Linked DNA regions of Homo sapiens: region 2 is linked to region 1. The links come from fine-mapping of genetic effects on gene expression. Tissue or cell type: whole blood. Region 1 holds a variant in brackets; the other region holds the start of a gene. All regions are shown on one strand. Distances are from middle to middle.

Evidence for each region. PIP is the estimated chance that this variant, and not a neighbour inherited with it, causes the effect.
Region 2: LINC00339 starts here. The variant in region 1 is fine-mapped to the expression of LINC00339 in whole blood (INTERVAL, PIP 0.94).

What each region holds. Positions count from the first base shown.
Region 1 is chr1:22,282,711-22,288,327 of GRCh38, forward strand. No RefSeq gene overlaps it. Among named protein-coding and RNA genes, the nearest start is that of MIR4418, 19 kb to the left of the region's middle. RefSeq lists an enhancer at 3,936-4,435. The variant A/G (reference allele first, on the strand shown) is at 2,264.
Region 2 is chr1:22,023,195-22,028,194 of GRCh38, forward strand. It overlaps LINC00339 (long intergenic non-protein coding RNA 339), which reads left to right and starts at 1,997. Exons shown (of 2, transcript NR_023918.2): 1 at 1,997-2,178. It overlaps LINC01635 (long intergenic non-protein coding RNA 1635), which reads right to left and starts at 2,854. Exons shown (of 3, transcript NR_110692.1): 1 at 2,770-2,854; 2 at 1,612-1,772; 3 at 800-1,251. RefSeq lists enhancers at 2,282-2,883, 2,495-2,604, 2,682-2,976.

The DNA of each region.
Region 1 (5,617 bases):
TAAGTCCAGGAATGTGTCTGGCTTCAGACCATTGGCGTCACAGCTGCAAACTAGAGACTTCCAGAGCTGGGAGTAACCGAGAGCTCCTCTCATCCATCCTTTTGCCTTCAGGGGCACTTCCGCCCTCCCCCGAAGACCATCCCAGCCAAAGGGAATGTTATCTTTTCCCCAAAGAGCTCCTTTCCTCTCCCTCGGGCCTTCATTCCTGTGGGGAGCAACTTCCAGCCAAAGACCTCTTCCCACGGATTGTAGCCAACTTTAATCCTGCCTGCCCAGCCCATGCTCCTGCTTCTGATGGCAGCACCCTTAGAGAGGCCCCCTCCCCACTCTCAAGTTGTGAGTTGGGTGGGGTTTACCTTGAGTGCACCTGTGGCCCAAGCCTGGCCAATGAGAGCACCACATTCCTCTCGTCTTGTCTCAGGGTTTGTTTGGGGGTGAGTAAGTGATCAAATCAAGGCAAATCAGATTAAGTTCTGGGATTTCGCTGCAACAACGGAGAAGGAGGTGTCCTTTCAGTTGGGTTTGCTGTTAGGATGGAAGCCTAAAGTTGCCATCATTTGGAGAAAGCCTACCTGAGAGTGGATCCAACACAGAGGAAAACAGGTTGGAGGCCTGGAGAGAGACAGCTCCTGACAACTGCAGTTGAGTACTTGGATCCAGCCATGCCTGAAGCTAAAAACCATGGACATTTTAGATATGTGAACTGATAAACTCCCCTTCCTGCCAGTTTCAGTGAGGTTTCAGTCATTTGCAGCAAAGGTGCTCCAACCCCACCCTAGGTCCTTCCTTCTGCCCCACAGCCTTTGTCCTTTGGCTCTGCCCACAGTGGGGCTGGAGAGTCTCTGGCCATGCCCTTAGCAGGAGATTCCTTCATCTCCTTGAGTCTGCTGGTCAATTGCTGCTCAACATCTGTGTCTCCACTTGGACTCACCCTGCTCCTCTCACTGTTTTCTCTTTGGTTTACTGTTATTCAGAATCCTTCCCATTGCAGCTGAGAGAAGCCACATCACATCATCTTGAGCAAAAAAGGGGACTTGCTGGCCTGGGGAATTGCCCTGAGGAGTAGGGCTAGGGGGCTGGAATCACAGCTCAGGGCCAACAGGATTATCTCTGTCTGTCATTCACCCTTGCTGTCTCTGCTTCCCTGTGGGGCTGGCCTCATTCTCTCCCTTCTGTGAGGTGGAGAACTTGGCTACCATCAGCCCAGCTTGGGAACCCCAGTCTAAAACCAGAGAGCTGTTTTCTTCTAAGATCCATATGTCAGTTCCAAGGAAGAACTGACTGACCTTGTTTGGGCCATGTGCCTGCGGGGCAATCACTGCAGCCAAGGAAGTGGGGGACAATCATTGACCAAGTCTGGGTCATGTGGATGAGGCATTGGGGTTCAGTAATTGACAGACTTATGTAAGGAAGGAAGAACAGTTTCCCACAGGGGACCAGGTGGCTGATAGTAAATTAAGGTTGGGGTAAGAGGGATGCTGGGCAGAAAAGAGCAAGAGATATCCACCCCAGATACCACTATCATCACAACCATCATCTCCATCTGCCAGCATCTCCTGAATCCCTACTATGGGCCTGGCTCTGGGAGGAATCCATCCATCCAACCATCCATCCATCCATCCATCCATCCAGCCAGCCAGCCAGCCATCCACCCACTCACCCATCTATCCATCCATCCATCCATATATCTATCCATCCATCCATCCATCCATCCATCCATCCATCCACCCACCCATCTATCCATCCATCCATTCATCCATGCATGCATGCATGCATCCATCCATCCATCCATCCATCCAGCACTGATTCTGCACCAGGCCCATCTATCCATCCATCCATCCATCCATTCATCCATCCATCCATCTAGCACTGACTCTGCACCAGACCCCGAGCTAGAAACACAATAGTGAGTCTCATCTCACTCAGAGATAGGGACTTCAGCCCTAGTTCAGCCTAGAGGGGAAGAACATTTAAGAAGCCATTATATTCCCCTGGGGTAAGAGCACTTTTAGGGAAGTATAATGGACTCAGAGCAGGGCCAGCTAATGTAGTTTTGGCAGAGTGGTCTGGAAGGGTTTCCAGGAGGAGGTGACAGTTAAGCAGAGACCTAAAGGAAGAGCAGGAGGTAACCAAGTGAAGAATAAAAAGAGTCTCCAGGAGAGGTGACACTGGGAGGGCAGGAGTTTCTGCCCCTGTGGCGTTGACAGTGATGTGGGAAGACAGGACTCCTCCCTTCCCTCACTCAGCAGTGCTAACAGGGCCC[A/G]GGATGGCCTCACCCTGGGCTGGGCCTGGGATCTGGAAGTGAGATCGCCTGGGCCCCTTCCCCCAGGAGCTCCTGATTCACTAGGGGAGGCAGGTGTGTGGTGTAAGAAGAGCACCGCATGGAGGAGGCGGTCTGGAGGAGAGCAGGGGTGCGGTGGGTGCTCCAGGGAGGAGGCTAAGTCTGCACTCAGCCTTGACAAGAGGCACTCACTGGGAAAAATGAAGCCACAGGTTCCGGATCGTCAGGGCTGGTGCCTCGCATCCTCCATCCTCATAACTCCCAGTGTGTGGGTGTCCTGAACTGTGTCCTCCTGACCACCCCTCACTCCTGGAGAAGCCTCCACACCAGCCCTCCTTGGTCAGGGTCAGCCTGTCCTCTCTCCTTGTGCTCCCGCGGAGGTGTAGGAAGATGTCCGTTCCGGATGCTGATGAAGAGGAAGGTAGGTACTTGGGCAGGGAAGGTAGAATATGGAGGTTTGGTGAGGATCTGAGGTCAGGAGATGGGATTCAGGGCCTCCTTCAGCTACAGACTCACGGTGTGACCTTGGGCAAGTCCCCGCCCTCTCCGGGCCTTGGTTGATCCCTCGGTTTGGATGGGAGAGTTCACAGGCCTTGTTCCGGCGCCATTTCTGTGCATTTGGAGGTGGGGCTGCACTGGGGCTCCTGGCTCCTGGCCGCGCCGCCTTGCAGCCTACAGGTCCTGAGTCATCTTCCAGGCAGCGGGTGACCTCTCCATACCCCTGTCTCCCCGCAGCCCCGTGACCCTGGGCGGCGCGCAGGGCCAGGCCGTCCCAGGCGGGCTGCACAGTGGAAATCACAATATTGACCCAGCGCGCAGGAAGTGGGGAGGACAGGCCGCCGGGGTTCCCGGCCCGGGGGGAGACAGCTCGCTGAGTGATGAGCTCGGAGCCAAGCTCTCCCTCCCTCCTGGGTCACCGCACCGCTGCCCGCCGCCAGGGCTGTTCCTCTTGGCTCCAGGGCCCCCCTCCCTGGACCTCCCTCCTACACATTCCCCCGGCCCAGGCCCCAGAGGGGAGCTGCTGGTGAGCTCCAGGCCTCAGGGCCTCTCGGGCCCTGCCTCCCTCTAGCCCAAGTCCCGGTTCCCTTGTGCTTCCAGCATCTGAGGGGCCAAAACTGGAACTGCACCCTCACAGGCCACTGACCTTTGGAATAGTCCTGCCTCCCATTTAACAGATGGGGGAACTGAGGCTTAGAAAGGTACTCAGCCAGTTGTATCAGAGCCAGGATCCACACTCAGATCTGTCCAACTCCTGGCCAGTGCTCTGTCTACGCCGTGAGTGAGTTATCGTCGGTCGTGATAATAGTGTGAGTAATAAACTGCTCAGTTAGTGAAGTTTTTGGTCTCACGCAGCCCTCTTGCCTGCCCTAGGAGCGGTTCTGACTTTACAGACGAGGAAGCTAAGGCTTAGAGGTGGTGAGATAACTTTCCCAAGGACACAGCCCGGGAGCAGCAGGGCTGGGATTTGAACTGTGGTCCGCCTGATCTGTCTGTTCTGCCAAGCTGTGGGGCAGGAGGGGCCTGTCCTTGAAGGTCTACTCAAATGCCACCTCCCCTGGGGGGCCCCAGGACCACCTGTAGATTGTGCTCCCCCAGAGGGGTTCCTTGGGGACAATGTAGCCCACAGCCTTGCTCTCCAGTGAGGGGGCCCTCAGTTGGTGTTGCCTGGGGGTCTGGCCGTGGGGTTTGGAGGCTGGTGGGTCAACCCTGCTGGTGGGTTGAGCTGGACCAGGAAGTGCTGCTCAGGGGTGAGCACCCTCCAGGGGGCGTGGTGAAGTAGAGGGGAAATACTCCTGGGCTTGGAGCTGGGGACCTGGAGCCCCTCCCTAACCTCCCAGGGTCTTGGTTTCCTCATTCATAGAAAAGGGCTTGGGGTCCATTTGAAGGCCTACTCCCCAATACCAGAGACTTAGTAGAGCTTTGGGCTTCTATTTCTTCCAGCTCCCTTCCCACAAGCTGGGTGTCATGGGGGAAAGGGTTTACAGAGCTCTCACTGGGCTCTGATTAAGTTTTCTACCCAGGGTTTTCACTATAAGGAGTCACCAATGAAAATCTGCCAATGTGCTTCTTCTAGGGCTGCTGTTGAGGGTGTTTTCTGATTCATCACATGACCCCATTATGAGGAACCCCAGGAAAAATTCGCCGAGAATTCAGTGTAGGCAATTTGCATGAAGTCTGAGAAATTGGTATAATTTTATATTTTGGACACTGATTGTGTCTGTGTGTGTGCATGCTTGCCTGAGTGTTTACATCTTTGTTTTGCCCATGATGAAGCTCAAGGCTAAAACTATGACACATGACAGTGTGGGACTTCCTGATCCAGGTCACCTCCCCTTCCCCTTGCCACAGGCCCCAGAATATAATTTTCATTTATTGACCTACTGTGCAGCATGAAGATACAGCCCTTTACCGATTTCCTCATTTCCTTTGTGCCAGGGTGAAAACTGACTTTCAGAACGTGAACAAGGTGCATGATGGATTTATCCATTAGTGATGTCTGCCATGGGCACACGAAGGGAAGTACTGGTGCATATGCCTCATTTTTGCCTTCCCTCATTCAATCAATGTATAATATTGTATCTAATCATATTTTCTATTTAACCATATATAATTTCATAAGCTGCCTTTAAACCTTTGTGGAACAAGACTTTGTATAAATAATGGTAATTCATTGCAAATAACCATTAGGTTCTTTAACATAGGTTATATTACTATGTCCTTACCATCTCTCTGCAGGAGAAAATGGGTGGGTCATATGGCACCTTTGTGCATATTCGAAAACTATGCCCCTCTGGGCAATAATGGCTTAGTGAGCAGAGCACAGGGTAGATTTTAGCCCCATTCACTTCATCACCCAGGTGTATTTGTTCAGTGCATGACCTTAACAACCACACACAGCAACCCTATTCAGTGTCTTGCCAAATCCCATGGTTATATCCTTCACTCCAAATCCAGTTCTCATTTTATTATATGCAGCACACAGACCATATTCTGGGTCTTGGACATCTATTCAGGCTCCAGGATGGTTGGCATTTGGTCTCAGGCTAAGTGAGGCAGTGGAAGGAAGAACAGCGTAAACAACTTAGCTTGCGTTTGTGCCACAAACAGGCAACATTCCTGCTGGTGCCTGTCCCTGCCTGCCAGATTCCAGTGAGGATCCTGGGCTATGAATAGTCCCAGTGATGCCCTCTCAGAGGACCCACTGGACTTCCCGCAGGCCCGGTCCTTGGCCTCCACCCCACACTGGCCACTGGGAAATCAGGGACAAGACCTCTTCCCTGGCACCTTCATCCTGCATGTTTCTTCCCGCTTGCTTTCCGCCCGGGATTACCGCCG
Region 2 (5,000 bases), 260 kb before region 1:
AGAGCACTGCAAGCAGAGATCAGCAAAAGAAGTGAAGATGAGGCCGGGTGCGATGGCTCACGCCTGTAATCCCAGCACTTTGGGAAGCCGAGGTGGGTGGATCGCTTGAGGTCAGGAGTTCGAGACCAGCCTGGGGAACATGGCAAAACCCTGTCTCTACTAAAAATACAAAAATTAGCTGGACAGGGTGGTGCAAGTCTGTAATCTGAACTACTTGGGAGGCTAAGGCAAGAGAATCACTTCAACCCAGGAGGTGGAAGTTGCAGTGAGCTGAGATCATGCCACTGCATTCCAGCCTGGGTGACAGAATGAGACTCTGCCTCAAAAAAAGGCTGGGCGTGGTGGCTCACACCTGTAATCCCAGCACTTTGGGAGGCTGAGGTGGGCGGATCACCTGAGGTCAGGAGTTCGAGACCAGCCTGGCCAATATGGCGAAACCCCGTCTCTACTAAAAGTACAAAAAATTAGCCGGGTGTGGTGGCTCGTGCCTGTAATCCCAGTTACTCGGGAGGCTGAGGCAGGAGAATCGCTTGAATCCGGGAGGCAGAGGTTGCAGTGAGTCGAGATCACACCATTGCACTCCAGCTTAGACAACAAGAGCGAAACTCCGTCTCAAAAAAAAAAAAAAAAAAAAAAAAGAAGTGAAGATGAGCTTGTCAGATTGTCAGATTTGCAAAATAGCCAGAAGGTCAGTGTTCTTGGAGCAAACTGAGTGAGCAGGAGGGTGGGGAAAGATGAAGCACAAAGGCTGAATTTTACCTGGGATGATAAAATAATCTTACACAAGCCGAAACGTATATACTTTCACATAAATTTATGTGCCTATGAAATTGGAGTTGCTCTGGGACTCAAGCGGCATCCTTGCCCCAACCCCTGCTGTTTTCTGAAGCATTCCTAAGGAACCTTAGAGTGTGGGAGAGAGAAATAGCAGGAAGTCCTTAACCTAGTCCAACCCTTTTATTTTACAGTTAGGGAAACCTAAGCTGAGAGAGGAGATGGAAACCTGGTTGTAGGAGTGAGTGGGGAAGGGTTCACGGTCATTCTGGTAGGTAGGGGTAGGGCCAGAGCAAGGAGTCCTGGTTTGTGAACCACCAGCTGGCCGTCTAGGAGTTTACAGACCAGCAGTGGCAATGTTGACAAAGGGCATATCTTCCTTTCCCCAAGAACATTGGCTCTGGAGCAATAACCCAGCAATGGGGGCTTTGGGGTGTCCCTCTTAATCCGGTAGCTCAGCCCATTCGGATATGCCAGCTGGAAAGAGAGAGGGAGAAGTCAACTGAGTACCTCTCTCTAACAGCTCAATCCCTCCCCTTCAGGGTTAAGATCGGGGCTGCAGTGGTTAGCATCTCTGCTTCCTCTAGCCGGCTGTGTCATTGAACCTGTGTGATCAGACGCAAACCAGATCAGTATGACTTCAAAGCTTCATCTTTGAGATGGAGTCTTGCTCCCTCGTCCGGGCTGGAGTGCAATGGCGCAATCTCGGCTCACTGCAACCTCCGCCTCCCGGGTTCAAGCAATTCTCCTGTCTCAGTCTCCCGAGCAGCTGGGACTATAGGCGCCTGCCAGCACGCCCGGCTAATTTTTGTATTTTTAGTAAAGACTGAGTTTCACCTTGTTGGTCAAGCTGGTCTCGAACTCGTGACCTCAGGTGATCCACACGCCTCTGCCTCCTAAAGTGCTGGGATTACAGGCGTGAGCCACCGCGCACGGCTAAAGCTTCAGTTCTTAACCATCAGGCGACAGTGCGTAGTCTGGTAGCAACTGGAAAAGTCCTGCTGAGATTTAGCCTCCCATACACACAGAGTCCCACCCCGGACAGGCTGTATCAACCCCCCACGGCCATATGCCCACTGCTGTTTGCGTACAATGAGGCGGGACCTATAGACTGTATCCACTGACTCATCTGGAGTGATTCCGCGGGGCGCCAATACAAGGACCACTGTCTCCAAACAGCAGCCAGCCACCCCTCTCTCTTGGTTTCCTTCCTTTGAGTGGTGCAAAGGCTTAAGGGTGTAACCTCAGAATGGGGCCCTGAATCAGCTGTGGGCGAGCTCCTAGAGTATCTTAATTCCTGCTTCATCTCTTTCCATTTTGCAGTTGGGCAAACTGCGGCTCAGAAAGATAAAGAACTTCTCCGGAGCGAAAAAGCTGCTAAGAATGTATCCAAAACTCCGCACGGTAAGGACTGAGGACGGTCAAAAGACCACCAAGAGTTAAAACCATGAAGCTGCGTAGTACCGCGGAGGCTAGAGAGACCCGGCCCACCCCTTCCAACCTATGCCCCTCCTCTTAACTTCCGGGCGGGGCATGACTTCCGGTTCCCGCGCGGCGCTCCAAAGCTCGGGGAGTGGTGGTCTCCCTTTCCTGGAGTCATTTGTGGGAGTTAGGGTCTTATCCTGATCTTTCCTCGTCCCCCGCTCCCCCGTCCTCCGAGGTGGCAGCTGCGTAGGTGAACGTTCCCCCTGTCCCCTTCCTTCTCCTTCCTAACCCGAGTACGCTTGCTCGCGGCCACAGTGGCTGCCTGCCCCAGGAGCGGGGAGTCCCTGCCTTTGGGGTAGGGAAATGACTGAAATGTGGGACCTGCGGGCTCCTCGGGCTGACTTGGACCTCACTGCAGCTCTGGAGGTGGACCTCGTCCTGGGACCCTAGAAGCCCATTTCCGCACTCGGGCTAGGCCTTCGGAGCCGCGGCAGCATAGTGGGAGGAGTCGGGCTCAGCTCCCCCCCACCACAACCGGGATTATTTTTATCGGTTGAGTCATCGCACTACCTTTCATCCTTGTGGCTTTGGGCAAGTCCCCGCCCTCCGAGCCTCACTTTGCTTATCTGTGAATGGAAATAACAGTGCCTACCCCATGGGCTATCGGGAGGATCAGTTGTGAGGGAATGCAGTGTGGGGTGTCTGGCCGGCAGAATTCCACAAATGGTAGCAGCGGTTGATGTCACTGGAGGTTCCTGGGGCAGTAATTTATCAAGAGTTTATGATCCTGAACTAAGGATCATACGGAGGAGGATCTGTGTATAACGTTCGGCACAATGTTAGATAGGAAGTAAGGGCGCAGTGCACTGGAGTTATTTTTTCTTTTTTTTTTTTTTGAGACGGAGTCTCGCTCTGTCGCCCAGGCCGGAGTTGCAGTGCCGCGTTGTCGCCTCACTGCAACCTTCTCTGCCACATGGGTTCAAGCGATTCTCCTGCCTCAGCCACTCGAGTAACTGGGATTACAGTCGCACATCACCACGCCTGGCTAATGTTTTGCATTTTTAATAGAGACGGTTTCACCATGTTGGCCAGCCTGGTCTTGAACTCCTGATCTCAGGTGATCCACCCGCCTCGGCCTTCCAAAGTGCTAGAAGTATAGGCATGAGCCACTGTGCCTGGCCTGGAGTTATTTTTTCTCACTGGGTTTTTGAGCAAAGAAAAGGAGTTATTAACTGGTGAGGATAAATTTGTGTTTGGTAAGTCGTCTTCTGAAGCTGACAGGATTTATAAGCCGGGTAAATTGTGGTGCTGGTTCATCTTTGAGAGCCAGCCTTAAGAATTGGCCCACTGACTGCTGGGCGTGGTGGCTCACATCTGTAATCCCAGCACTTTGGGAGGCCGAAGCGGGTGGATCACCCGAAGTCAGGAGTTCGAGACCAGCCTGGTCAACATGGTGAAACCCCATCTCTACTAAAAACATAAAAATTAGCCAGGTATGGTGGTGGGCACCTGTAATCCCAGTTACTCGGGAGGCTGAGGCAGAGAATTGCTTGAACCCAGAAGGAGGAAAGGTTGCAGTGAACCGAGATCACACTACTGCACTCCAGCCTGAGCGACAGAGTGAGACTTGTCTCAAAAAAAAAAAAAAGGAAAGAAAAAGGCCCACTGACAGTCTGTTCCTAGAAACCTGGGTTGTAAAGACGTTGGGTGCTGGGAGCTAGAAGAAGTAATAAAAGGGTGTTTTCCTAAGTGGGTTAGGGGTTTTCACTCAGAAAGGTTTTTGGGCAGGAGGGGAAAGCCTGAGAAGTTTTCTTCCTCTTGAGTTGTTATAAAAGTAATACATGTGTGTAGTTAGAAAACAATGCAGAAAGATGTAAAATGAAAAGTGTTTCCCCCTTCTACTGTTTCTGCCCTTCAGAAGTAAATACAATTAATTTCTTTGATAACTTTCTATCTATTATTTGGATATATCAGGTTTTATTTATTTGTATCTGTATTTATGTATTTTTAATTTCCTCAGATCGGGGGTCATACTACACATCGATCGGGACCTTAGTCATGTTGTGATATGGACAGCTTTCTTACCAGTACTCATAAGCCTGCTTCATTTTTTACGTGGCGGCACCACTGAGTGGTTGACGGTACTTCAGTCATTTCCCTGTTGATGGTCACTTAGGTTGTTCCCAAGATTTTGCTTTCCCACAGTGTTTCACCCAACCTTTCTTGGACGAAATATTTTAGTCCAACTCACCCTAAGTGATTCTGCTTTTCCCTATTCACCACCCTAGGTTAGTAACAGCTTACTTTGGGGGATGAGCACACCTTATTAACTGAGCAAAAACCAAGATAATGTGAGAAGAATTGGTGTACTCCCAAGAATATCCAAGGTGCTGGGTCTAGAATCAATTAAAGTCTCCTAAGAAATGGGTCAGGGAACCTTTAGAGAAGGGATGACTAGGTGCTGGGTGCACGGCAGCTAGTCAGCGTTAGTGATTGTTGGCTTCTGTCAATTGTTGCTCAGGAAACAGATTTGAGAGATTCTCTGAGGTGGGAAGGATTTTAAATGTCAGCTCTCCTGCTATGTATTATATGTCTGGAAGGGATTAGTTCTTTGAGGGAAGAGAGTATTAAAGAAAACAATGGGCCGGGCACGGTGGCTCACACCTGTAATCCCAGCACTTTGGGAGGCCGAGGCAAGGGCGGTGGATCATGAGGTCAGGAGATCGAGACCATCCTGGCTAACATGGTGAAACCTCATTTCTACTAAAAATACAAAAAAAAATTAGCTGGGCCTGGTGGCA